Homo sapiens: one gene and its partners. The protein of the gene in region 4 purifies or fractionates together with the protein of the main gene of each other region. This does not show direct contact. Each region holds a gene or a part of one and is shown on either strand. Other genes may lie near its edges.

Region 1 (2,367 bases), on a different chromosome or scaffold from region 4:
AAAAACTGGCCACCATTGGTGTGCAATGGAGTGATCTCAGCTCACTGCAACCTCCGCTTCCTGGGTTTAAGTGATTCTCCTGCCTCAGCCTCCCAGGTAGCTGGGATTACAGGCATGTCCCACCACGCCAGGCTAATTTTTGTATTTTTAGTAGAGACAGGGTTTCACCCGAGTTCAAGTGATTCTCCTGCCTCAGCCTCCCAAGTAGCTGGAATTACAGGCATGTCCCACCACATCTGGCTAATTTTTGTATTTTTAGTACAGATGGGGTTTCACCAAGTTGGCCAGGATGGTCTCCATCTCTTGACCTGGTGATCTGCCCACCTCAGCCTCCCAAAGTGCTGGGATTACAGGCGTGAGCCACCATGGCTGGCCACTGGACACGATTTTTACATGGAGGTGAAGGAACAGGTCACAATGCAGCACCTATCAATGCCACAAAAGACTGACAGCTGTCACCCCACTCTAGTCTCCAAGGAGGAAACTCCAGGCAGGTTAAGTTAGTTTAAAATTTTATTTTTTTTATTTATTTTTTAATATTTTTATGTAATAAAAAGTAAAAGTCCTTGTCCAGCCATCCTCGTGGGGCATCTGTCTGTCTCTCACACAGGTCACTCAAGTTAATGGGAAAGAAAGAACAGGGGGCCCAAGTCTGAAGTTATAAATAATAGAAAATAAAAGATCTTCCGTCTCCAGCGGGGGAATAGATGAGAGGATGGGAGGGCAAGACTGGGTGGGGACGGGCAGGGGCAGAGCAGGAACCCCCCACCCCTGCTGGACCCTGGCCCTGCCCTCTGTGAGGCCCCTCCCATTCAAGGTGCTTGGCAGGAATTCCCCAGCTCCCCTGGGGAACGGGGGGATGGGGGGCTGGGAGTGGTCCGAGCTGCTGGGGGAAGAGACATAGATCACTCTTCCCTCCACTCATGGAGGTCTCAGGTCGCGGCCAGGACAATCTTCAGTTCCCCGGGGGGTGGAAGGGGAGCTGCTGGGAGGGATGAGATTGAACTGGTTGGAGGGGAAAGAGAAGAGAGCAGGAGCATTAGAACCCAAGCAGCTGTCCCTTCCTCCAATGCCGTCCAGTGGGGGCGTGGGGGTGTGTCTGGGAAGGAGCGGCCTCCTCAAGGTGTCTCGGGGGCTGTCAGAAGCACAGGTCAATCGCTGTTTCCCAGTAAGCCAGAGCCCTCACTCATGTGCCCAGCTCAGCCCCCCACACCCCAGTCTGGCCCTGTCTGCTGCACTGACCTTACCTCGGCTAAGTCAGGAGACAGTCGGGGTCACTGAGAGCTGGGGAGGCAGTGGGGAGGGGGGCTGCTGGATCACAACTGAGCGAGGACGGAGGGAAGCAAAGGACAGAGCCAGGAGCAAGCCCCTGGCGGCGGCGACTGTGGCTTCTGCCCACCCTACATACTTCACAGACAGGTGCAGGTCGGCGGGCGCCCTGTGGGACAGCCCTGCCTCCAAGACCCCTCACTCCCCACCCAGAACCCGTGCATCCTGCCCCACCTGCAGCCCCTCAGCTCTTCCATGCCAAATTCCCCCAGCTAATGAGAACTCACGAATCCTGTCATCGGCTCCTCCTGGAAATCCAGGCGCCTGGCCAGGCTGCTCACCTTGGGGGTGTCCGATGTAGGGGTAGGGTGAGGGTGTGGAAGCTGAGAGTGCAGGCACCCCACTCTGGGGCACCGCGCCTTGGGGGGGCCCCCCATGACTCTGGGGTGGGTGCAGCAGCATCACCTGGGGCGGGTGGGGAGCCCCAGGGTGAGGGGGCGGGGCTGCTGTGATTCCAGTTTGGACATGGGCCTGTGGAAAACAAAAAAGTAGCCGGGAAGACCACAGAATCCTGAAACAGACTCTGAGAGCCAGAGTTAGGGAGCACTATGGCAAGGGTGGCACCAGGGACTTGGCAATGGGATGGTCCCCATGGCAGACGGGCCCTGGCAAACAGACCCAGAAGTGGGACAGCTGGGCTCTTACCTGGGTAACATGGGCCATGTTGGTGAAGCCGTGGGGCAGCTGCTGGTGGTGGATGGCATACACAGCGGCTGGCTGGGGGAAGCTGCTCTGAGGGGACTGGGCAGAAGGTCCCGGTGGCAGAGAGGGCGGCGTGCCTGTCAGGGCCCCTGGGTGGTACAGATTCTGCTGTGGCTGTCCACTGCCCAAGTGTGGGGCCTGCCCCGCCTGATGCTGCTGGGGAGGGGAAGGTTGAGTGCCACACAGGCCAGCAACTCGCTGGCCCCCAGTCCTCGCCACTCAGAAATGACCCCTAGCTCTATCCCTTCTTCTGGCCACCCATTCCTGCACCAGGACCACTCAGCACCCCCCATGGCAGGCACCTGGACAGGACTGGGGGCCGCATGCTGGGACTGC
Region 2 (3,133 bases), on a different chromosome or scaffold from region 4:
TTACTTAAGAGTTCTATTTTTTTTCTTCCCACACAGGCTGAGGACAATGTGTGTGTCAAGAAAATAAGAACCAGAAGTCATAGGGACAGTGAAGATATTTGACAGAAAAATCGAACTGGGAAAAATATAATAAAGTTAGTTTTGTGATAAGTTCTAGTGCAGTTTTTGTCATAAATTACAAGTGAATTCTGTAAGTAAGGCTGTCAGTCTGCTTAAGGGAAGAAAACTTTGGATTTGCTGGGTCTGAATCGGCTTCATAAACTCCACTGGGAGCACTGCTGGGCTCCTGGACTGAGAATAGTTGAACACCGGGGGCTTTGTGAAGGAGTCTGGGCCAAGGTTTGCCCTCAGCTTTGCAGAATGAAGCCTTGAGGTCTGTCACCACCCACAGCCACCCTACAGCAGCCTTAACTGTGACACTTGCCACACTGTGTCGTCGTTTGTTTGCCTATGTCCTCCAGGGCACGGTGGCAGGAACAACTATCCTCGTCTGTCCCAACACTGAGCAGGCACTCGGTAAACACGAATGAATGGATGAGCGCACGGATGAATGGAGCTTACAAGATCTGTCTTTCCAATGGCCGGGGGCATTTGGTCCCCAAATTAAGGCTATTGGACATCTGCACAGGACAGTCCTATTTTTGATGTCCTTTCCTTTCTGAAAATAAAGTTTTGTGCTTTGGAGAATGACTCGTGAGCACATCTTTAGGGACCAAGAGTGACTTTCTGTAAGGAGTGACTCGTGGCTTGCCTTGGTCTCTTGGGAATACTTTTCTAACTAGGGTTGCTCTCACCTGAGACATTCTCCACCCGCGGAATCTCAGGGTCCCAGGCTGTGGGCCATCACGACCTCAAACTGGCTCCTAATCTCCAGCTTTCCTGTCATTGAAAGCTTCGGAAGTTTACTGGCTCTGCTCCCGCCTGTTTTCTTTCTGACTCTATCTGGCAGCCCGATGCCACCCAGTACAGGAAGTGACACCAGTACTCTGTAAAGCATCATCATCCTTGGAGAGACTGAGCACTCAGCACCTTCAGCCACGATTTCAGGATCGCTTCCTTGTGAGCCGCTGCCTCCGAAATCTCCTTTGAAGCCCAGACATCTTTCTCCAGCTTCAGACTTGTAGATATAACTCGTTCATCTTCATTTACTTTCCACTTTGCCCCCTGTCCTCTCTGTGTTCCCCAAATCAGAGAATAGCCCGCCATCCCCCAGGTCACCTGTCTGGATTCCTCCCCATTCACCCACCTTGCCAGGTGCAGGTGAGGATGGTGCACCAGACAGGGTAGCTGTCCCCCAAAATGTGCCCTGTGCGGGCAGTGCCCTGTCTCCACGTTTGTTTCCCCAGTGTCTGGCGGGGAGCCAGGTGACATCATAAATACTTGCTGAATGAATGCAGAAATCAGCGGTACTGACTTGTACTATATTGGCTGCCATGATAGGGTTCTCACAGCGTCATCCATGATCGTAAGGGAGAATGACATTCTGCTTGAGGGAGGGAATAGAAAGGGGCAGGGAGGGGACATCTGAGGGCTTCACAGGGCTGCAAAGGGTACAGGGATTGCACCAGGGCAGAACAGGGGAGGGTGTTCAAGGAAGAGTGGCTCTTAGCAGAGGCACTTTGGAAGGTGTGAGGCATAAATGCTTCCTTCTACGTAGGCCAACCTCAAAACTTTCAGTAGGAATGTTGCTATGATCAAGTTGTTCTAACACTTTAGACTTAGTAGTAATTATGAACCTCACATAGAAAAATTTCATCCAGCCATATGCCTGTGGAGTGGAATATTCTGTTTAGTAGAAAAATCCTTTAGAGTTCAGCTCTAACCAGAAATCTTGCTGAAGTATGTCAGCACCTTTTCTCACCCTGGTAAGTACAGTATTTCAAGAGCACGCTAAGGGTGGTTTTCATTTTACAGGGCTGTTGATGATGGGTTAAAAATGTTCATTTAAGGGCTACCCCCGTGTTTAATAGATGAACACCACTTCTACACAACCCTCCTTGGTACTGGGGGAGGGAGAGATCTGACAAATACTGCCCATTCCCCTAGGCTGACTGGATTTGAGAACAAATACCCACCCATTTCCACCATGGTATGGTAACTTCTCTGAGCTTCAGTTTCCAAGTGAATTTCCATGTAATAGGACATTCCCATTAAATACAAGCTGTTTTTACTTTTTCGCCTCCCAGGGCCTGTGGGATCTGGTCCCCCAGCCTCTCTTGGGCTTTCTTACACTAACTCTGTACCTACCATCTCCTGCCTCCCTTAGGCAGGCACCTCCAACCACCACACACTCCCTGCTGTTTTCCCTGCCTGGAACTTTCCCTCCTGCCCCACCAAGATCATTTCATCCAGTCCTGAGCTCAGCTTAAGGGAGGCTTCTTGCCTGTGGGTTCCCTCACCCCCATGCCTGTCCTCCAGGCTGGGGCAGGTTCTTAGTTTGCCTGGAATTGTTCTGTACCTCTTTGTAGCACGTAGTGTTGTGGAAACTAAGCCACTAATTGAGTTTCTGGCTCCCCTCCTGGGGTTGTAAGTTTTGTTCATTCATGAGGGCCGACTGCATTTCCTGGTTACTCTATCCCAGTGACCAGCCACAGGAGATGTCCAATAAAGTATGTGATGAAATGGTCTTAAAACCCATGGTATTTTTATTATAGGGAGAGTGGGGAAAGAAACTAAGTGTGGGTGGGGCAGACAGGCCAGTGTAAGAGAGACTGGTTCATTACGTTCCATTTTCATTTCTACAAGGACTTGGCTGGATGGTCATTTTCTCTCTTGGCCAATAAGTCATCGCAGCTGCTTTTAGTCCTGCAGGAATGGCCTGCTGTATCTCGAGAACTACCTGCAACCGCAGCTGTGCCTGCTTTGTTGCAACAGAGGTGCTGAGTTGAGGGATGGGGATTTGACCCAGGGCTGCCCCAAGTCAGCAGATGAAAATACATGCCCTGACTTTCCTCTGGCAACCCTGATTTGACATGGATCCCGGGAGTGAATTTGCTGGCAAGTTCCAGGGGCAGTAGCCTGCGGTAGGTCAGTTAGTCCTGAAGAAGAGGCCTTTCTGTCGGAGAGAAAAGTTTGCAGGTGGGTGCATCTACCATCTTGAGAGGCTGAGGAGGGAGGGAGAGCCGTGCTCGGT
Region 3 (3,500 bases), on a different chromosome or scaffold from region 4:
GCTGGGGGAGGCCTGTCCACTTCCCCTCCTCTCCTCTTCCACCTCCTTTTACCTCCCCTTAACCACCCCTTCTTACCCTTGTGTTCTCTTTGCTCATTCCATCGATCTTCTTTAGAGAGACTCGGGACTGGCTTGAATGTATCCAAATAAATACACCTCCTGGAGTTCCTCAGTGAAGTCGAACTTAGCCCGGGCTGTGGCAGGAAGGTGTATGAACCTGGATGCCTCTGACCCATTGGACTTTGGTCCATAGGCAGTGAGAATGGTGTTGTTCATTCTTATGGTTTGGGGAGTGTTGTCTGACAGAGGGGCCTGCTGACACTGTCTCCTCACCCTCTGTGCAGCTTCTGGATGTGAAATTCCAAACCTGGCATCTTCTGGGCCTCCCAAGACTGATTCTTCCTGTTTCCCAACATGCAAATTGCAGGCTCCATAACTCCTCAGGAGCTATTGCTGGCAAAAGGCTATTTTCCCTCACTGAATTTTTGAACACGTTTCAGGATTGTAATGCAGAAGTTTTTATCTCTGATCCTGGGTAGCAGCATTTATTGGCACTGGGGAAGAGGGAAACAACAGAGTGGAGATGGCACACTGTGGGCCTGCTGGCTAAAATGCTTGTGGCTGAAAGCCTGCAGATGTGTTTGGTTTGGTTCGGTTCACATATTTTTTAAATCAGTCAATTTCACGTTGAGAGAAAAATTTTTTAAAAGTGTCTGGCCTAACATGAAAAATCAAAACATCTTCCAACTCAGCAATCACATTTCTAGGGCAATCGGCCATGACAGAGTGTCACTGTCTAATTTTAGGTGGGGGCGGGTGTTTTTACTACAGTCTCCACCACTCCCCATGGTCTCACACCTGGCCTGTGTTTGTGCTCCTGTGCATCTTTGACCTTGGGTGGGGAATATCTTGCATCAGGGTCATGGCTGCTGAGGCTCCTGGGCGTGTGTGCTCCAGAGATAGGCCTCCACTCTGCTCTGACTCTGCTGTTGCTTTGTATGGGGACTGCTCATGCCTTGGGTACGAATCGCTCACTCCTAAAGAGGAGCAGGTGAGAATGTGGGACATCAGAGAGTGCCTGGGTTTGTTTCTTCTCTGAATTTATTAGCCTGAAGAAAGAATTAGTGAAACCTGAAGTTTGGTGGTAGGGTGGGGATAGAAACTGTTGAAGGCCTTGATTTCTATAAATAGTAACCTCCATGTATGTTTGACAGGTGAAAGGAAAGCAAGCCAGGATGGATATTTACGACACTCAAACCTTGGGGGTTGTGGTCTTTGGAGGATTCATGGTTGTTTCTGCCATTGGCATCTTCCTGGTGTCGACTTTCTCCATGAAGGAAACGTCATATGAAGAAGCCCTAGCCAACCAGCGCAAGGAGATGGCGAAAACTCACCACCAGAAAGTCGAGAAGAAAAAGAAGGAGAAAACAGTGGAGAAGAAAGGAAAGACCAAGAAAAAGGAAGAGAAACCTAATGGGAAGATACCTGATCATGATCCAGCCCCCAATGTGACTGTCCTCCTTCGAGAACCAGTGCGGGCTCCTGCTGTGGCTGTGGCTCCAACCCCAGTGCAGCCCCCCATTATCGTTGCTCCTGTCGCCACAGTTCCAGCCATGCCCCAGGAGAAGCTGGCCTCCTCCCCCAAGGACAAAAAGAAGAAGGAGAAAAAAGTGGCAAAAGTGGAACCAGCTGTCAGCTCTGTAGTGAATTCCATCCAGGTTCTCACTTCGAAGGCTGCCATCTTGGAAACTGCTCCCAAGGAGGTGCCGATGGTGGTGGTGCCCCCAGTGGGTGCCAAGGGCAACACACCAGCCACTGGCACTACTCAGGGCAAAAAGGCGGAGGGGACTCAGAATCAAAGCAAAAAGGCTGAAGGAGCCCCAAACCAGGGCAGAAAGGCAGAGGGAACCCCAAACCAGGGCAAAAAGACAGAGGGAACCCCAAACCAAGGGAAAAAGGCAGAGGGAACCCCAAACCAAGGCAAAAAGGCAGAAGGAACCCCAAACCAAGGCAAAAAGGCGGAGGGGGCCCAGAACCAGGGTAAAAAGGTAGATACAACCCCAAACCAGGGGAAAAAGGTGGAGGGGGCCCCAACCCAGGGCAGAAAGGCCGAGGGGGCTCAGAACCAGGCCAAAAAGGTAGAAGGGGCCCAGAACCAGGGCAAAAAGGCAGAGGGGGCCCAGAATCAGGGCAAAAAGGGAGAGGGGGCCCAGAACCAGGGCAAGAAGGCCGAGGGGGCCCAGAATCAGGGCAAGAAGGCCGAGGGGGCCCAGAATCAGGGCAAGAAGGCCGAGGGGGCCCAGAATCAGGGCAAGAAGGCCGAGGGGGCCCAGAATCAGGGCAAGAAGGCTGAGGGGGCTCAGAACCAGGGCAAAAAGGCCGAGGGGGCTCAGAACCAGGGCAAAAAAGTAGAAGGGGCCCAGAACCAGGGCAAGAAGGCTGAGGGTGCCCAGAACCAGGGCAAAAAGGCCGAGGGGGCCCAGAATCAGGGCAAAAAGGCCGAGGGGGCCCAGAACCAGGGCAAGAAGGCCGAGGGGGCCCAGAACCAGGGCAAGAAGGCCGAGGGGGCCCAGAACCAGGGCAAGAAGGCCGAGGGGGCCCAGAACCAGGGCAAGAAGGCCGAGGGTGCTCAGAACCAGGGCAAAAAAGTAGAAGGGGCCCAGAACCAGGGCAAGAAGGCTGAGGGGGCCCAGAACCAGGGCAAGAAGGCCGAGGGGGCTCAGAACCAGGGCAAAAAGGCCGAGGGAGCCCAGAACCAGGGCCAAAAAGGAGAGGGAGCCCAGAATCAGGGTAAAAAGACAGAAGGGGCTCAGGGCAAAAAGGCAGAAAGGAGTCCCAACCAAGGCAAAAAAGGAGAGGGAGCTCCCATCCAGGGCAAAAAGGCAGATTCGGTTGCTAATCAGGGCACAAAGGTAGAGGGTATTACAAACCAGGGGAAAAAAGCAGAAGGGTCCCCCAGTGAAGGCAAAAAGGCAGAAGGGTCCCCCAACCAAGGCAAAAAGGCAGACGCAGCTGCCAATCAGGGTAAAAAGACAGAGTCAGCTTCTGTCCAGGGCAGAAATACAGATGTGGCCCAGAGCCCAGAGGCACCAAAGCAAGAGGCTCCTGCCAAGAAGAAGTCTGGTTCAAAGAAAAAAGGTGAGCCTGGTAAGTAACTGATTTCTTTATGAACTTAGAAGGAAAGGCTGTCTTTAAATGACTTATGGATTCTCTCGGGGAGTGCCACCTGTATCAGTCAGCTATTGTCATAATAAGGCTGCGTAACAAACATTCAAAAAAAAATTCAGTGGCCTTCAACAGCAGTCATTTATTGTTGCTCATGCTTCTGGAGGTTGGCAGATGTGAGCTTTCTCGGTTGGTGGCTCTGCCTCAATCTGGTTTTAACTGGGTTGGTGACTCTTTGCTACAGGTTGAGCTCAGGTCAGTTCCATGTGTGGTCCTTCTGGCGCCCTCCAGGGCAGAGGCCCTTCATAGTTACAACAGAGGCACAAAAGGGCATT
Region 4 (3,500 bases):
GTGGTATGATCATAGCTCACTGCAGCCTCAAACTCCTGGGCTCAAGCCTCTGGAATAGCTGGGACTACAGGTGTGTGCCACCATGCCTAGCTGATTTTTAAAATTTTTATAGAGATAGTCTCACTATGTTGACCAGGCTGGTCTTGAATTCCTGGCCTCAAGGGATCCTCCTGCTTAGGCCTCCCAAAGCGTTGGGATTGTAGGTGTGAGCTGCTGCTCCTGGCCAAATTATGAATTCTCAATAGGAAATATTTGAAGACCTGGAAAAGAACATAAAAGCATGCTACCAATAGGAAATGTTAATTAAATCACAAATTTACCACCACTGTATAATAAGGTGTTAAGTTTACAGACTTGTGAATAATAGAGTTATAGATTCAAATTCCAGGTCTGCCACTTATTCATATGACACTGAACAGTGTCTTAATCTAAGATCCTCTATTTTCACCTGAAATAGAGGAATAACCTAATAGCTACTTAATCAGATTGAGGAGTACATGCCATTGCATATGTGAAGTGTCTAGTGCTTAGTAATTAATAGCCATTAAATGATTTCTGAATTTTTGTCTTTAATGTCAGGGCAATATAGTGCAATGTTACTAAAATATAATTTTGGGAAACGAATAAGGTAGATAAGTGAAAGTGACATGTATATCATAGCATGCAGATTTCCTGAGTTAGTGAAGAGCATGCTTGAACCTCAGTTTTCTGAGTTGTCAGATGGGGATATTAGCATTTTATTCCATAGATTTTTAGGACTCTGTAAGTTAATGCAAAGACACTTGGAACACAACTCAGTACGTAATACATAATAAGTGCCCACTAGAATATATTGTTATGGTTCAACATCTTTATACTAGAGGTAGAGATTAAAGGAATTAGAGAAGCTCATCGGTGATATCATAGAGCTGTTGGGTTTTGAAGTTGAAAAATACGTTAGAGATCATCGGGTAGCATAGTAGGTACTATTTTTGAGTGAAACTCTTAAGTGATCTACTTAAAGGAACAAAGCTTTCTGGAGGCAGAATTTAATGCAACTGATGCTTCCTTTTTCCTGACTGAAACTGCTAATCATGTACAGCACACTGTCTCCTAATTTTTTATCCTTATTAAATCTGAGATTTATAAAATGACATCACTTTTCTGGAACTTTTTTCCTGACAGATTAAAAACCACATGTTTGACTGTGTGCAGTGGCTCACACCTGTAATCCCAGCACTTTGGGAGGCCGAGGCAGGTGGATCACCTGAGGTCAGGAATTCGAGACCAGCCTGGCCAACATGGTGAAATCCTGTCTCTTCTAAAAATACAAAAATTAGTTAGTCGGGTATGGTGTTGCGCGCTTGTAATTTCAGCTGCTTGGGAGGCTGAGGCAGGAGAATCTCTTGAACCTGGGAGATGGAGGGCATGCCACTGCACTCTAGCCTGGGCAACAGAGTGAGACTCCATCTCAAAAAAAAAAAAATCACGTTTTTGGTTTTAATTTATCTGACTTACCTTATGTAGATTTGTTGGTCACTTATTTAAGATATCTTTGTTCAGCTGATGTTTTTCATTATGTTTGAAGGAAATATAATTGATTTTCTTTCTTTCTTTTTTTTCTTTAGGCGAAGTCTGGCCTTATCACCCAGGCTGGAGTGCAGTGGCGCAATCTTGGCTCGCTGCAATCTCCGCCTCCCCAATTCAAGTGATTCTCCAGCCTCAGCCTGCCGAGTAGCTAGGACTATAGGCGTGTGCCATCACACCTGGCTAATTTTTGTATTTTTAGTAGAGATGGGGTTTCACCGTGTTGGCCAGGCTGGTCTCAAACTCCTGACCTCAACGGGAGATCCTCCCTCCTCGGCCTCCCAAAGTGCTAGAATTACAGACATGAGCCACTGCCGAGAATTGGTTTTTACTTAGATTTGATAGGCCTGTTATTTCTAATAAGAAATGGATTTTCAAAAATAAATTACTTTTTCCTTCCCCAGATTTGACAAAACATTTATCAGGGGGCTATTCCTGTATCAGTCTTTTTAGAAATGTTTAGATGCTTGGAATAAGAATATGAGGATGATAGTGCGTCTGCTTTCTGTTGCTTGCCTCAATGCTGCATCCAGATCACCTGGGCTACACAATTACAAACAGATTATCTGGCCCAAGGTGAAGAATCAGAAATGGGTAAGACCTTTCCAAATAGAGGTAACAAGAGTTAAGATTTTGGGCTGGGTGCTGTGGCTCACGCCTGTAATCCCAGCACTTTGGAAGGCTGAGGTGGGCAAATCACGAGCTCAGGAGTTTGAGACTAGCCTGGCCAAAATGGTGAAACCCTGTCTCTACTGAAAGTACAAAAATTAGCTGGGCGTGGTGGCATGCACCTGTAGTCCCAGATACTCAGGAGGCTGAGGCAGGAGAGTTGCTTGAACCTGGGAGGCAGAAGGTTGCAGCAAGGCAAGATGGCGCTACTGCACTCCAGCCTGGGCGAGAGAGTTAAGAGACTCCACCTTGAAAAAGAAAAAAAAAAAAGAGTTAAGATTTTTTTTGAGACAGAGTCTTGCTCTATCGCCCAGGCTGGAGGGCAGTGGCATGATGTCGACTCACTGCAACCTCCGCCTCCCAGATTCAAGCAATTCTCCTGCCTCAGCTTCCCAGGTAGCTGGGATTACAGGCATGTGCCACCACACCCGGCTAATTTTTGCATTTTTAAAAGAGACGGGGTTTCACCGTGTTGGCCATGCTGGTCTCGAACTCCTGACTTCAAGTGATCCACCCACCTTGGTCTCCCAAAGTGCTGGGATTACAGGCATGAGCCACTGCACCTGGCCCAAAGAGATTTCTTGAAAACCTCTCAGGCGGGTTTGAAAAGTTGGAATTTCCTGGATGTTTTATTGATAGTAAATTTGAACATTCTCGTGGTAGTGGGGATTATGTACAAATAATTTGAACCTGATTGATTGTTTTTCCATGTTTTATTTTTATTTTAAGCATTATTTAGTTTTTCTGTACTACCTGACTGCACTTTTTGGAAAATTTGAGTAAGTCAGTAACATAGGATTAAGTTTGTTTGATTAAATCTTTTCTTGAAAGAAATAAGTCTTAGAACTCTTAGACCCTAGGCAACTATTTGGATATTATGGTGTGGGTTGCTTCCAGATATGAGCCTGACAGTTCTAGGTCAGTGCAATGTATGTGAATTAAAGCCTGCTAAAAGTACTCTCACTGTAACTCTCCACAGCCGTCTATTTAAGATTTCTCGTAAGTTGACATAATTGTTCTTATGAGCAGCTATTTTTTTGGTGAAGGTTTTTTGGCTTCTGATTATAGAATGATTAGCCATTAGCAGCTTTTTAAAAAGAATTTCTCATATCTTGCTTTATTTGAAGTATTTCAGGCCAGGTTCCATGGCTCACGCCCGTAATCCTAGGACTTTGGGAGGCTCAGGCGGGCATAACATTTGGGGTCAGGAGTTCAAGACCAGCCTGGCCAACATGCTGAAACCCCGTCTCTACTAAAAATACAAA
Region 5 (3,500 bases), about 88 Mb from region 4:
AGTGTATCAGTCTAGCAAACTTCAGAACTACCCCTGCCTACAACAGAGCAAGTCTTAATTACTATTTTAGTTTTGAATTTAAAAGTGAAGCCTTATTGTTTATCCTTGGAAATTATAAACTTTGTATCTTATGAAAAGACAGTATGGATTGATGTTAATAATTACTTTCATTCTCTACTGAGGCTTTTTTCTTTATTTTTTCTTTAAGGTAATCTATTATCAGGTTTCCTGTTTCATTGAGTCTTTATAATTGCTTTTTGCACTTCCTGAATTGAGACAGGGGCATTTCCTAGAAGTACTGAATTTGTCATTCATAATTGATTCCAAAGATCATATTTGAAATAGTTGAGATAAATATAAACCTACAAAATACAAGTTACATGAAGTTTTATTTTGTTTAGATTCCTTCTCTCAATTCTGCTAAAATCAGGCATTGTAGAGAAGTGGTCCTGCTCATGAGGTAGAGACAACCATTATGGTAAAGAGGGGGATTTTATGGAAAAATGCTTAAGTTTGATTCGCAAAACTGTAGAGAGCAAGGTAAACAAAGAAACAAGCCCAAATTCATCATGTGATTTGAAAAGACCTGTTATATCACGTCTCAGAGTGGTAAGTACAGAACTGGATTGAGACAGCAGCAGTTCTATAATTATTCTTGACTCCTCTGATGAGCTCCCACTTGGCGACTGGACAAGTTGCTTTACGTCTTTGTAGATTGCCTGTTAACAAGGAGCCACCTTGTTTCTCATTAAAGTTTGCCTAATATTTCCAAGTATGAAAGTGATGTGTTAAGGTCTTTCACTCTTTTATTGTAGCTCCTATTTTGAACTTATAAAATTTGTCTAGGTTAAAACTTGGAACATTCATCTTGAACATTCTTTTTTTCCTTCAGTGTTTCTCAATTTTAATGATTACAGAATTGTATAGACTTATAACCACTCCTTATCTTGCGAGTTTCCTGAAAAGTTGAATAAGGAAGAAAGGTTTAGTCTTCTGAAAAGTATTTCCTTATGAGATCTTGGCTTGCTCCATTTTCTTTTTCTAAAGTATTTTGGAATTAAGCTTTTAATGGTTTCTTTAGGTATGTTTAGGCTTTGTCTAATGTTATCAAGATCTTAGTGATATGAGCTATATCTCTCTGTAGGTCAGATACTAATTTATCTGCTTAATCCTATTTTAGCCACCAAAGTCCTTGGCACTGTCAAATGGTTCAACGTCAGAAATGGATATGGATTTATAAATCGGTATGTGTGTGTGTATATTTGCATGTTTTAAGTTTATACTTACATTGTGGCACCAGGAGTTATAAATCCCTTAGCCTTCATTAATGGCTTATATAAATTTTTTAGGTTTCTAAGCACTGTAAATATTCTCATTTCTAAGCTACTGGTTGTTAAATATTACTTAAAATACATTTCCAGGACACTAATAAATAACTTATTTCATAAAATCTAGTCATTAAGGAAGAAAAGGAGGGGGAGATAAAATCAGAAATGGGAAGGGCCTTAGGATAAATGAGACCATATCCATAATTTCACAGATGGAGAAACGGAGTCTTACACTGGTTAAGCAGCTTTCCTAAGGTCACCCAACTAGTGAGTCATTGAGCTGGATCTTTAACTCACTTCTGGTCCAGTCCTATGTAGAAACTGTAAACTGTGGTAACTTTTAACCGTACAGGAATGAGAACATAACTACAAGATGCTGGGAGTATTATGAGGTTTTCACATGATATCGGCATTTTCTTTGCTTTCCCACCCCTTCTTAAAGTCCTCCAATTTCTTGTCTCCTTTGGTGGGGTGGGGGTGGGGGGCTGTTTTAAGTTTCAGTGTAAGGAGAGCCTAGTTCACAGCTGTGCCCTGTCCTTTTAACTGTCTTGCTTTGCTTTTGCTGGGAGGAAAATCTGAGGCTCTGATTACACACCATGTGATTCAGAAAGAGACAGAGGAACGGGATGTTTCTGTATGTTGAGTCTGTGAGCTTGGATCTAAGCACTGTGGCAATGTGGAGGAGGAAGGTGGGTGGCCTGTGGAGTTAGAAATGTTTAACAAGGATTTTAGGTGTCTGAATTGAGTGTAGAAAATAAGTGAAAATATATGTTGTGTTTTGAGGACTTGGGAGTTAAATTCATAACACATAGGTTCTTTTAAGTTTTTCCACATACGTACTACCTTTAATTGTGAGCTTTTTGTCTTTCAACAGAAATGACACCAAAGAAGATGTATTTGTACATCAGGTAAGAGGGATTATAAATACTACATTTGCTATGTGAGGAGAGGGTGTGTAATCTTCTGTCAGCCCTTTCCCAAAAGTAAGTCCTATGGATTATTATTTTAATCTAAACTCTTTCTGTGATTTATTTTGCAACAGGAGTTCAGTTCCACATTTTAAGATTGGCAAATAAGTTCTTCTACCCCATCATATTAACTGTTTTCAAATAGTTTTATTTTTGCAGTTGTATAAAGTGATATTTGGTTAGACCACTTTCTAATTTTTAAAGCCTTTGAGTCCTTAGCAAAAAAAAGAAAAGTCTGTTTCCCTTTTAGCATCCTGTTCTCCTGATGTGGTTCCTCCTTAGTGTTTGCCTGGAGCCAATCTGGCTTCTGCCTGGGTAGGTATTGGTTAAAGCTCCTCTGTCAGAGCAGCTCTCAATTGAAGTAAATAGCGCAGAGAAGCAGATAGTAAGATGAGAAAACTTCCAGTTCCCAGGGTAGCCCTCACTCTTGTTAAATGAGGCATGTTAGGACGTGTCCAGGTCAAAAGCTGCAAATTCCCTTAGATTTGCAGGAAATAGAGGAAATGGGTAAGATATGGAGCTTCTCTGCTATAGGTGCCTCAGTTTTTCTTTGCTTTATTAGCCTAGGATGTTATTTATTCTGTTATTAATATGTCCTAGACTTCCTTTATAAAATAGGTTAAGAGAAGGAATACTATCCTTAGTGTTCTTTTTGTTTATTTAGTTTTCAGTGAATTGTCTGAAATATGCGTTCTCAGAGTATAACAATAAGGAAGATAGAGCAGCAGGTACTAATGCCAGCCCATTCTCTTGCAGTGCAGAAATCCAGAATACATCTGATTTTCTGTGTTTTTGTTTCCTTCTGTTTAGGTTTGTGTGTGTATTGGAGTGACCGTAGGAGTTGGAGATAGTGGTATCTAGCTGTGGTTTCTATTGTTTATATTTCTACTTGACTGGATATATCTCAGTTGCATTTAGATAATTTGAGTAGATTTATTTTGTTCAGATACAGTGACTTTTAGGGTCATAATAGTGTTGTTTATAATACTTGGAGGTTTGAGGTTAATAGACCTTTTAGGGTAAGAATTCTGAAGACTGCTAGAGTCAAGGTCCTCAGAAGTTGCTGTATTGGTGGCTGGCTTTATTAGCCTGTGAGTATATGACCCGATTCCAGCCCCCGTGAGGTTGTGTGGTGAGTCACCTCAATGTGTTGAGGCTTGCCCAGTTTAACAGGAAAAAGGGAGCGAGCCGGCAGGGAGGGGCT
Region 6 (3,500 bases), on a different chromosome or scaffold from region 4:
ATCCCATCTCCTAAAGGGGAGGACTGTGGCTATTATTTGTAGGACAGATGAACAATAAAGTGTTAAGTTTCCTGTTCTCTTCACTAAAATACACACATGCACACACGTGTATACACACATATATAGTTTCTTTTATATAAAATATAGAATTACTATTTCATAGACAGGGATTCAGGAAGACTTTGCTGGGGCATGTGGTATAGATAGGAGTTGAGAAGATCAGGATCATTTATTGGCCTTACGTAAACAGACAGCATTGGACTAGGGGCTTTTATATATGTAGTTTCATTTCTTCTTCAGTTAACCCTAGACAGTACTTTTATTTAGGAAGTACTTTTTATTAGGCCCTTTTTATGACTGAGAAAGTTGACGTTCAGGGTTATCATGGAGTTAGTATTTGTACTGAAGTCTGACTTCAGTACTTGTGCTCTTTTATACTACACTGTGTTGCTGCTTTTATTGTTTGGAGACATTCTTGTGATTGACTCAGCTGAAGAAAATAAATAAAGCCAAACCACTTGGCCTTATTTTAGAAGTCATTTGGAGATTGAAAGACATTTTATGTGATTGAAAGAAGCCTAGACCTGAGGTCAGAAGACTTGGGTTCTGGTCCTTGACAGCTCAGATCCCTGAGCACGTCCTTACCTCTCTTTAGCCTCTGTCTATGAAGCAGCAGTGGCCTCTCCTACCATAGTGCTATGCACAGGGTGCTATAGGAGCACAGGCAGCAATATATAGATTACTTTCCCCTCTGCTTCAGTGAGTTTGTGTATTTATTTGTTTAAGCTTCATCATATCTCCATGCCTCATCTACCCCATAGTGTTCTCATGAGGACTGTAAGAGATAACATTGCAAAAACGGTGCCTGGCTCTATAGGATTTTTATTATTTAAAAATTCTGGGCCGGGCGCGGTGGCTCACACTTGTAATCCCAGCACTTTGGGAGGCCGAGGCGGGCGGATCACGAGGTCAGGAGATCGAGACCATCCTGGCTAACACAGTGAAACCCTGTCTCTACTAAAAATAAAAAAATTAGCCGGGCGTGGTGGCAGGCACCTGTAGTCCCAGCTACTCAGGAGGCTGAGGCAGGAGAATGGCATGAACCCTGGGGGCAGAGCCTGCAGTGAGCCAAGATCGCGCCACTGCACTCCAGCCTGGGCGACAGCGAGACTCTGTCTCAAAAAAAAAAAAAAAAAAAAAAAAAATTCTGAGGTTGGTTGGTTTGTTGTTTGCTGGTAGGCCAAAGATAGAGAAGAGTCCAGGTGATGATAAGGACAGCATGTTTCTGGAAGGGCTCCGGTGTTGGGGATGGAATTTGGGAGGAGTTGAGAGAAAGAGAGTGTTTTAGTTCTTGCAACCTGGTTGAACATTGACACTTTGGAGATTTTGTCCCCTAAAATCATATTTAGATTCCGGATCAGAGATGAGGATGGATTTATAATTTACAAAGCCCAGACAAGAAACAGTGTACAACAGCAGTTAGCTTAGTAATGGCTCTGCCACAAGTTTGCCGAATAAAATTTGCTTTTTAAATGGTCACAAGGAGGTGAAAGGGAATCACCGATGAGTTGCACATAATTATTTTTAAGTGTCTGGAGGAAATCCCTGCCCCTTGACCACCTTTTGTAAAAATGTATTATTTTTTTTTTATAACTGCTCCTTGGGGAGCAGGGTTTTATTTTGACAATAAGAAAAGAAAAGTTGAAGCAGCGAGGGGTAGGGATGTTGAGTGTACTAATGGAATCTGACTTTCTTAGTAGTGTCTTTGTCCTGGCTCTTTCAACAAGGAAGTGGGCCAGGAAGTCATTTGCTCTTCTCAGACCTCAGTCCCCTTATCAGTAAGAGAACATTGAACTAGATAATCTTTAAGGCTTCTTCCAGCTCTGACAACCTGTGATAGCAGTAATTTCACATTGTCTAACACGTACTTGATTTCTTACCCCTTTCTCATGCCAGCTTTTCTGGGATCAGCTTTACAATTGCTCTGAGATCCTTCTGACCACTTTTTTTTTTTGAGGCAGGATCTTACTATGTTGCCCAGGCTGGTCTCGAACTCCTGGGCTCAAGCAGTCCTCCCGCGTTGGCCTCGCATAGTGTTAGGGTTACAGGCGTGAGCCACTGTGCCCAGCCAGTCCTGATCATTCTTGGCATGACTTTGGTCTTTATTCTTCAGTAAAGTGCTCACATAAAGAGATGCACATCAGTCTGGTCTTTTGCTTGGGTCTAAGGAGGCCATTGTTCCTTTAACATTATTTATTAGCTGTAAGATTTGGGAAAATTACTTGGCCTCCATTTCTTTATCTGTAAGATGGATATAATGACATCTACCCCAAAAGTCTATTCGGGGAGATTAAATAAAGCTAAATACCAGCAGAATATCTGTTAGTTTCCTTCCTTCCCTTTCTTTCTTCTCAGAAAGGCAGAATGAATTCATCTCTGTTGTTTCTCCAACAGCCAAGCCCAACAACTCTGGGGAAGCCCCCTCGAGCCCCACCCCTAAGAGAAGTCTGTCTTCAAGCAAATGTGACCCCAGGCATAAGGACTGTCTGCTACGGGAGTTTCGAAAGTTATGCGCCATGGTGGCCGATAATCCTAGCTACAACACGAAGACCCAGATCATCCAGGACTTCCTTCGGAAAGGCTCAGCAGGAGGTGTGGCATGAGCATCCTGAATAGGCCTTTCCTCCGGAGAGCTCAAGGCCATGGCTGCCTTCCTGGGCATGTGAGCTGTATAGTTGCCCGGGATCCCATGCTTGGTTTAATGCTGTACTGTAGTGCTATCTGGAAATTCTTAATAATTTTGAACAAGGGGCCTCGCATTTGCATTTTGCACTGTACTCCACAAATTATGTAGCCAGTTTTTCTCAGAGCACTTTGGCATCTGTCTTCCTCTCCCCTTATTCTGCTCCTAGGAGGCCAGAAGAACCCATCCTATTTGACTAGTTAGAAAATTTACTGTCCTACATATTTAATTAGGTTTTTGTGAACCATATACACAGTTTGGAATAGAATCTTCCAACTCTGTTTCTTTCATTTATCTAACAAATTGTCGATGAGCATCTCTGATGTCCTTGTCACTGGGCACGTGAAGTGAAACTAACCACTCTGTCCAACAAGAGTTCATCTGTAGGCTAAAGGTGAGGCAGACACAATCCACCAGCCTCTGAACTCCATGCTGTCTCCTACTATAGCGATATGCACAGGGTACTATAGGAGCATGGGCAGCGATATATAGATATCTTTTGGTCTCTGCTTCTTTGAGTTTGTTTGTTTGTTTATTTATTGAGACAAAAAATGTGGCTGTGTTGCCCAGGCTGGAGCGCATGGGTGCAATCTCAGCTCACTGCAACCTCCGCCTCCTGGGCTCAAGCAGTCCTTCTGCCTCAGCCTCCCAAGTAGCTGGGACTATAGGCATGTGCCGCTATGCCTGGCTAATTTTTGTATTTTTTGTAGAGACGGGGTTTTGCTGTTTTGCCCAGGTTGGTCTCAAACTCCTGGAT
Region 7 (3,500 bases), on a different chromosome or scaffold from region 4:
GACTGAGCAAGACTCTGTCTCAAAAACAAACAAACAAACAAAGAAGCTGTTTGAGTCCTTTCTTTCAATTCTCTTGGTTCATACCTAGGAATGGAATTCCTGGATCATGTAGTAATTCTATGTTTAGCTTTTTGAGGAACTGCCACAGTGATCTGGCTGTTTGTTCTGCATTAATATTCAAAGGTCACAGATTCAAACATCCAGAGGGACCGGATGGGGTGTGTAACATGACCACAGGGCTTGTCCTAAGACCCAGCCACCTCCCCTCTGCAACTGAAGGTTGCCATGTGGAAATGGTATTCTCACGTTGCCAGGGGATACTGGAATTCTAGTTTTTGTTGTTGTTCATGGCAGTTAATCCAAATATTCTAAACGATACTGCCTGGGTAACAGAAAGCATCTCTGTGGACCAGCAGTAAAAGAAAAAAAATCCAGACCGGGCACAATGGCTCACACCTGTAATCCCAGCACTTTGGGAGGCCGAGGCAGGCGTATCACTTGAAATCAAGAGTTCGAGACCAGCCTGGCCAACCTGGTGAAACCCCATCTCTACCAAAAAATACAAAAATTAGCCTGACGTGGTGGCATGTGTCTGTAATCCCAGCTACTTGGGAGACTCAGGGAGAATTGCTTGAACATGGGAGGTGGAGGTTGCAGTGAGCCGAGATCACGCCGCTGCACTCCAGCCTATGCAACAGGAGACGCCATCTCAAAAAAACAAAAACAAAAACAAAAAACCTTCTGGTAGTTCTGTGATATATCATGACTTCTGTGTCTTTACATCCTGGTAGAGGGGGAACGTCCGGACCTAATCATTTTCTATGTGTGATTTTATATATATATATTTAATTTTAGTCTAGGTGCAGTGGCTCAGACCTGTAATCTCAGAACTATTGTAGGCCATGGGGAGGATCGCTTTGAGCCCAGGAGTTCAAAACCACCCTAGGCAATGTAGAGGGATCCTATCTCTACAAACATAAAAATAAAAATGAAAACATTATCTAGGCATGGTGACGTGTGCCTGTACGCTCAGCTACTTGAGAGGCTGAGATGAGAGGATCACTTGAGCCCAGAAACTCCAGGCTGCAGTGGGCTACGATTACACCATTGCACTTCAGCCTGAGTGACACAGCAAGATGCTATCCCTTTAAAAAATAAAAAATGAAGAAAAAGTAAAATAGTAGGCCAGGCATGGTGGCTCATGCCTGTAATCCCAGCACTTTGAGAGGCCGAGGTGGACGAATCACATGAGGTCAGGAGTTTAAAACCAGCCTGGCCAACATGATGGTACCCTGTCTCTATTAAAAATACAAAAAGTTACCCGGGTGTGATGGTGCACGGCTGTAGTCGCAGCTACTCGGGAGGCTGAGACAGGAGAATCGCTTGAACCCAGGAGGCGGAGGTTGCAGCGAGCTGAGACCATACCACTGCACTCCAGCCTGGGTGACAGAGCGAGACTCCGTCTCAAAAAAAAAAAGGTTTTGCTACCTTCTTGCTCATTGGTTGTTCATTTATTTCTCAGGGCTATCTCAGTGCCTAGAATTTTCTTTGAAGGAACTGAAGACCTTTGCTTTATTTCCATGATCCAGGGGATCCTGCAGGCCCCCAAAACGGGGTCCCTGCTTCATTTCATCCGGTGTAGGGGGTGCTTCCAGAGGTCTTTGCCAGACCCCCAGGGCACTGGCCTTTGCCCCAGCTGTTCTGAATGGTAGCCTGACCTGGCAGCCCATGCTGATGCTTTGTGGGGTGTTCTGCAGTTTGTAGATGCGGACAACCTGATCCTCAACCCTGACACACTGAGCCTGCTCATCGCTGAGAACAAGACGGTGGTCGCCCCCATGCTGGATTCCCGGGCTGCGTACTCCAACTTCTGGTGTGGAATGACTTCCCAGGTAGAGTGAGGGCCTGGGGACTGTGGGGACTGGGCTGAGCAGGGGGGTGCCGTGGCTAGAGTGTAACTTACTGTCACACAACCTCGTGGTGTGTGTTTTACAAAAATCATCATGGAAGCTGGGCACGGTGGCTCACACCTGTAACCCCAGCACTTTGGGAGACTGCGGCAGGCGGGTTGCCTGAGCTCAGGAGTTTGAGACCATCCTGGGCAACATGGTGAAACCCCATCTCTACTAAAAAAAAAAAAAATTACAGAAATTAGCCGGGTATGGTGGCACATGCCTGTCCTCCCAGCTGCTCGGGAGGCTGAAGCATGAGAATCACTTGAACCCAGGAGGCGGAAGTTGCAGTGAGCCGAGATCACGCCACTGCACTCCAGCCTGGGTGACGGAGTGAGACTTGGTCTCAAAAACAAAACAAAACAAAAACTCATTATGGTAATCTTTAAACAGCCCTCTGAGGCCAGACAGGAGGGAAGAATAGAGGGTCCTTGATTGTCCCCCACCATGCTATTCCAGAGGTGGAAACAGAAACACAGAGAGGAAGTGACTTGCCTAAAGTCACACAGCTAGCAAGTGGTGGTGTCAGGATGGGACTTCAGGCATGGCTTGATCCAGGTGTTTGGATAACTGTCTTTCTCCATCCTTTGGGTGGGTTCATTCTCAGACAGCTTGAGAGTGATCCCAGCAGCGTCTAGCCATCATCCATTCTGATTGGGCCATTGCTAGTCTCCTCTCCACACTACCTCTGAACTCATTACTGAAGCTGGGAAAATACAAGGCTCTTTCTTATTGGCCATGCCTGGCCACAGGTCCCACACTGGGCTTGAGTCTGGGGTCCTGGGACCACAGGCGCACACTGCTGTGCCTGGCTGTCTGTCTGGTCCTGTTTCATGCCGCCCACTATCACGGGTCTCCATCCTCACCTTTCAAGACCCCTACGCGGAACTCTCGCTCTCTCCCCACAGGGCTACTACAAGCGCACACCTGCCTACATCCCTATCCGCAAGCGAGACCGCCGGGGCTGCTTTGCAGTTCCCATGGTGCACTCGACCTTCCTGATCGACCTGCGGAAGGCGGCGTCCAGGAACCTGGCCTTCTACCCACCTCACCCTGACTACACCTGGTCCTTTGACGACATCATCGTCTTTGCCTTCTCCTGCAAGCAGGCAGGTACGTACATGAGGGGTCTGCCATCGCAGGGGCATCTGCCTGGTTCTTTGGGTTTTGCACTAAGCCAGTTCAGAACACACTGAAGATTCACAGAACCCAAACAATGCAGCGCAGGGCTGACTTCAGGTGCAGCTGTATCTAGGTGTTCAGATAATGTCTCCAGGACCCCGTTTCTCTCCAGCCCTGGCTTTGCTGGTTAGCTTCATTCCCTAGCTCTTTAAGATCTATTGGTTGGTCAGGCAGAGTGGCTTATGCCTGTAATCCCAACAATTTGGCAGGCTAAGGCGGGTGGATCATTTGAGGTCAGGAGTTTGAGACCAGCCTGGCCAACATGGTGAAACCCCATCTCTACTAAAAATACAAAAATTAGCCGGACGTGGTGGTGCTACTGGGGAGGCTGAGGCGGGAGGATCACTTGAATATGGGAGGCGGAAG

What was found.
Region 1: the proteins of TMPO (region 4) and ATXN2L purify together in Homo sapiens (affinity purification with mass spectrometry, with the first as the bait; one large-scale study listed by BioGRID). This does not show direct contact.
Region 2: the proteins of TMPO (region 4) and MKI67 fractionate together in Homo sapiens (co-fractionation; one large-scale study listed by BioGRID). This does not show direct contact.
Region 3: the proteins of TMPO (region 4) and RRBP1 purify together in Homo sapiens (affinity purification with mass spectrometry; 2 studies listed by BioGRID and IntAct, with this or other methods). This does not show direct contact.
Region 5: the proteins of TMPO (region 4) and YBX3 purify together in Homo sapiens (affinity purification with mass spectrometry, with the first as the bait; one large-scale study listed by BioGRID). This does not show direct contact.
Region 6: the proteins of TMPO (region 4) and LIG3 purify together in Homo sapiens (affinity purification with mass spectrometry; one large-scale study listed by BioGRID and IntAct). This does not show direct contact.
Region 7: the proteins of TMPO (region 4) and COLGALT1 purify together in Homo sapiens (affinity purification with mass spectrometry, with the first as the bait; one large-scale study listed by BioGRID). This does not show direct contact.

The regions. Positions count from the first base shown.
Region 1 is NC_000016.10:28,835,366-28,837,732, reverse strand, and holds the end of ATXN2L (ataxin-2-like protein), read right to left. Parts: coding exon 2,334-2,367; intron 2,188-2,333; coding exon of another isoform or gene 2,185-2,187; coding exon 1,975-2,184; intron 1,801-1,974; coding exon 1,468-1,800; 3' UTR 1,408-1,467; coding exon of another isoform or gene 1,253-1,407; 3' UTR 1,006-1,252; coding exon of another isoform or gene 933-1,005; 3' UTR 501-932; downstream 1-500. UniProt on the Homo sapiens protein: Involved in the regulation of stress granule and P-body formation.
Region 2 is NC_000010.11:128,096,159-128,099,291, reverse strand, and holds the end of MKI67 (proliferation marker protein Ki-67), read left to right. Parts: intron 1-36; coding exon 37-102; 3' UTR 103-2,633; downstream 2,634-3,133. UniProt on the Homo sapiens protein: Protein that associates with the surface of mitotic chromosomes and acts both as a chromosome repellent during early mitosis and chromosome attractant during late mitosis.
Region 3 is NC_000020.11:17,658,243-17,661,742, reverse strand, and holds part of RRBP1 (ribosome-binding protein 1), read left to right. Parts: intron 1-1,214; 5' UTR 1,215-1,235; coding exon 1,236-3,147; intron 3,148-3,500. UniProt on the Homo sapiens protein: Acts as a ribosome receptor and mediates interaction between the ribosome and the endoplasmic reticulum membrane.
Region 4 is NC_000012.12:98,522,090-98,525,589, forward strand, and holds part of TMPO (thymopoietin), read left to right. Parts: intron 1-3,500. UniProt on the Homo sapiens protein: May help direct the assembly of the nuclear lamina and thereby help maintain the structural organization of the nuclear envelope. Possible receptor for attachment of lamin filaments to the inner nuclear membrane.
Region 5 is NC_000012.12:10,716,824-10,720,323, reverse strand, and holds part of YBX3 (Y-box-binding protein 3), read left to right. Parts: intron 1-1,180; coding exon 1,181-1,244; intron 1,245-2,202; coding exon 2,203-2,236; intron 2,237-3,500. UniProt on the Homo sapiens protein: Binds to the GM-CSF promoter. Seems to act as a repressor. Also binds to full-length mRNA and to short RNA sequences containing the consensus site 5'-UCCAUCA-3'. May have a role in translation repression.
Region 6 is NC_000017.11:34,987,012-34,990,511, forward strand, and holds part of LIG3 (DNA ligase 3 isoform alpha precursor), read left to right. Parts: intron 1-2,454; coding exon 2,455-2,652; intron 2,653-3,500. UniProt on the Homo sapiens protein: Isoform 3 functions as a heterodimer with DNA-repair protein XRCC1 in the nucleus and can correct defective DNA strand-break repair and sister chromatid exchange following treatment with ionizing radiation and alkylating agents.
Region 7 is NC_000019.10:17,565,649-17,569,148, forward strand, and holds part of COLGALT1 (procollagen galactosyltransferase 1 precursor), read left to right. Parts: intron 1-1,757; coding exon 1,758-1,892; intron 1,893-2,860; coding exon 2,861-3,065; intron 3,066-3,500. UniProt on the Homo sapiens protein: Beta-galactosyltransferase that transfers beta-galactose to hydroxylysine residues of type I collagen. By acting on collagen glycosylation, facilitates the formation of collagen triple helix. Also involved in the biosynthesis of collagen type IV.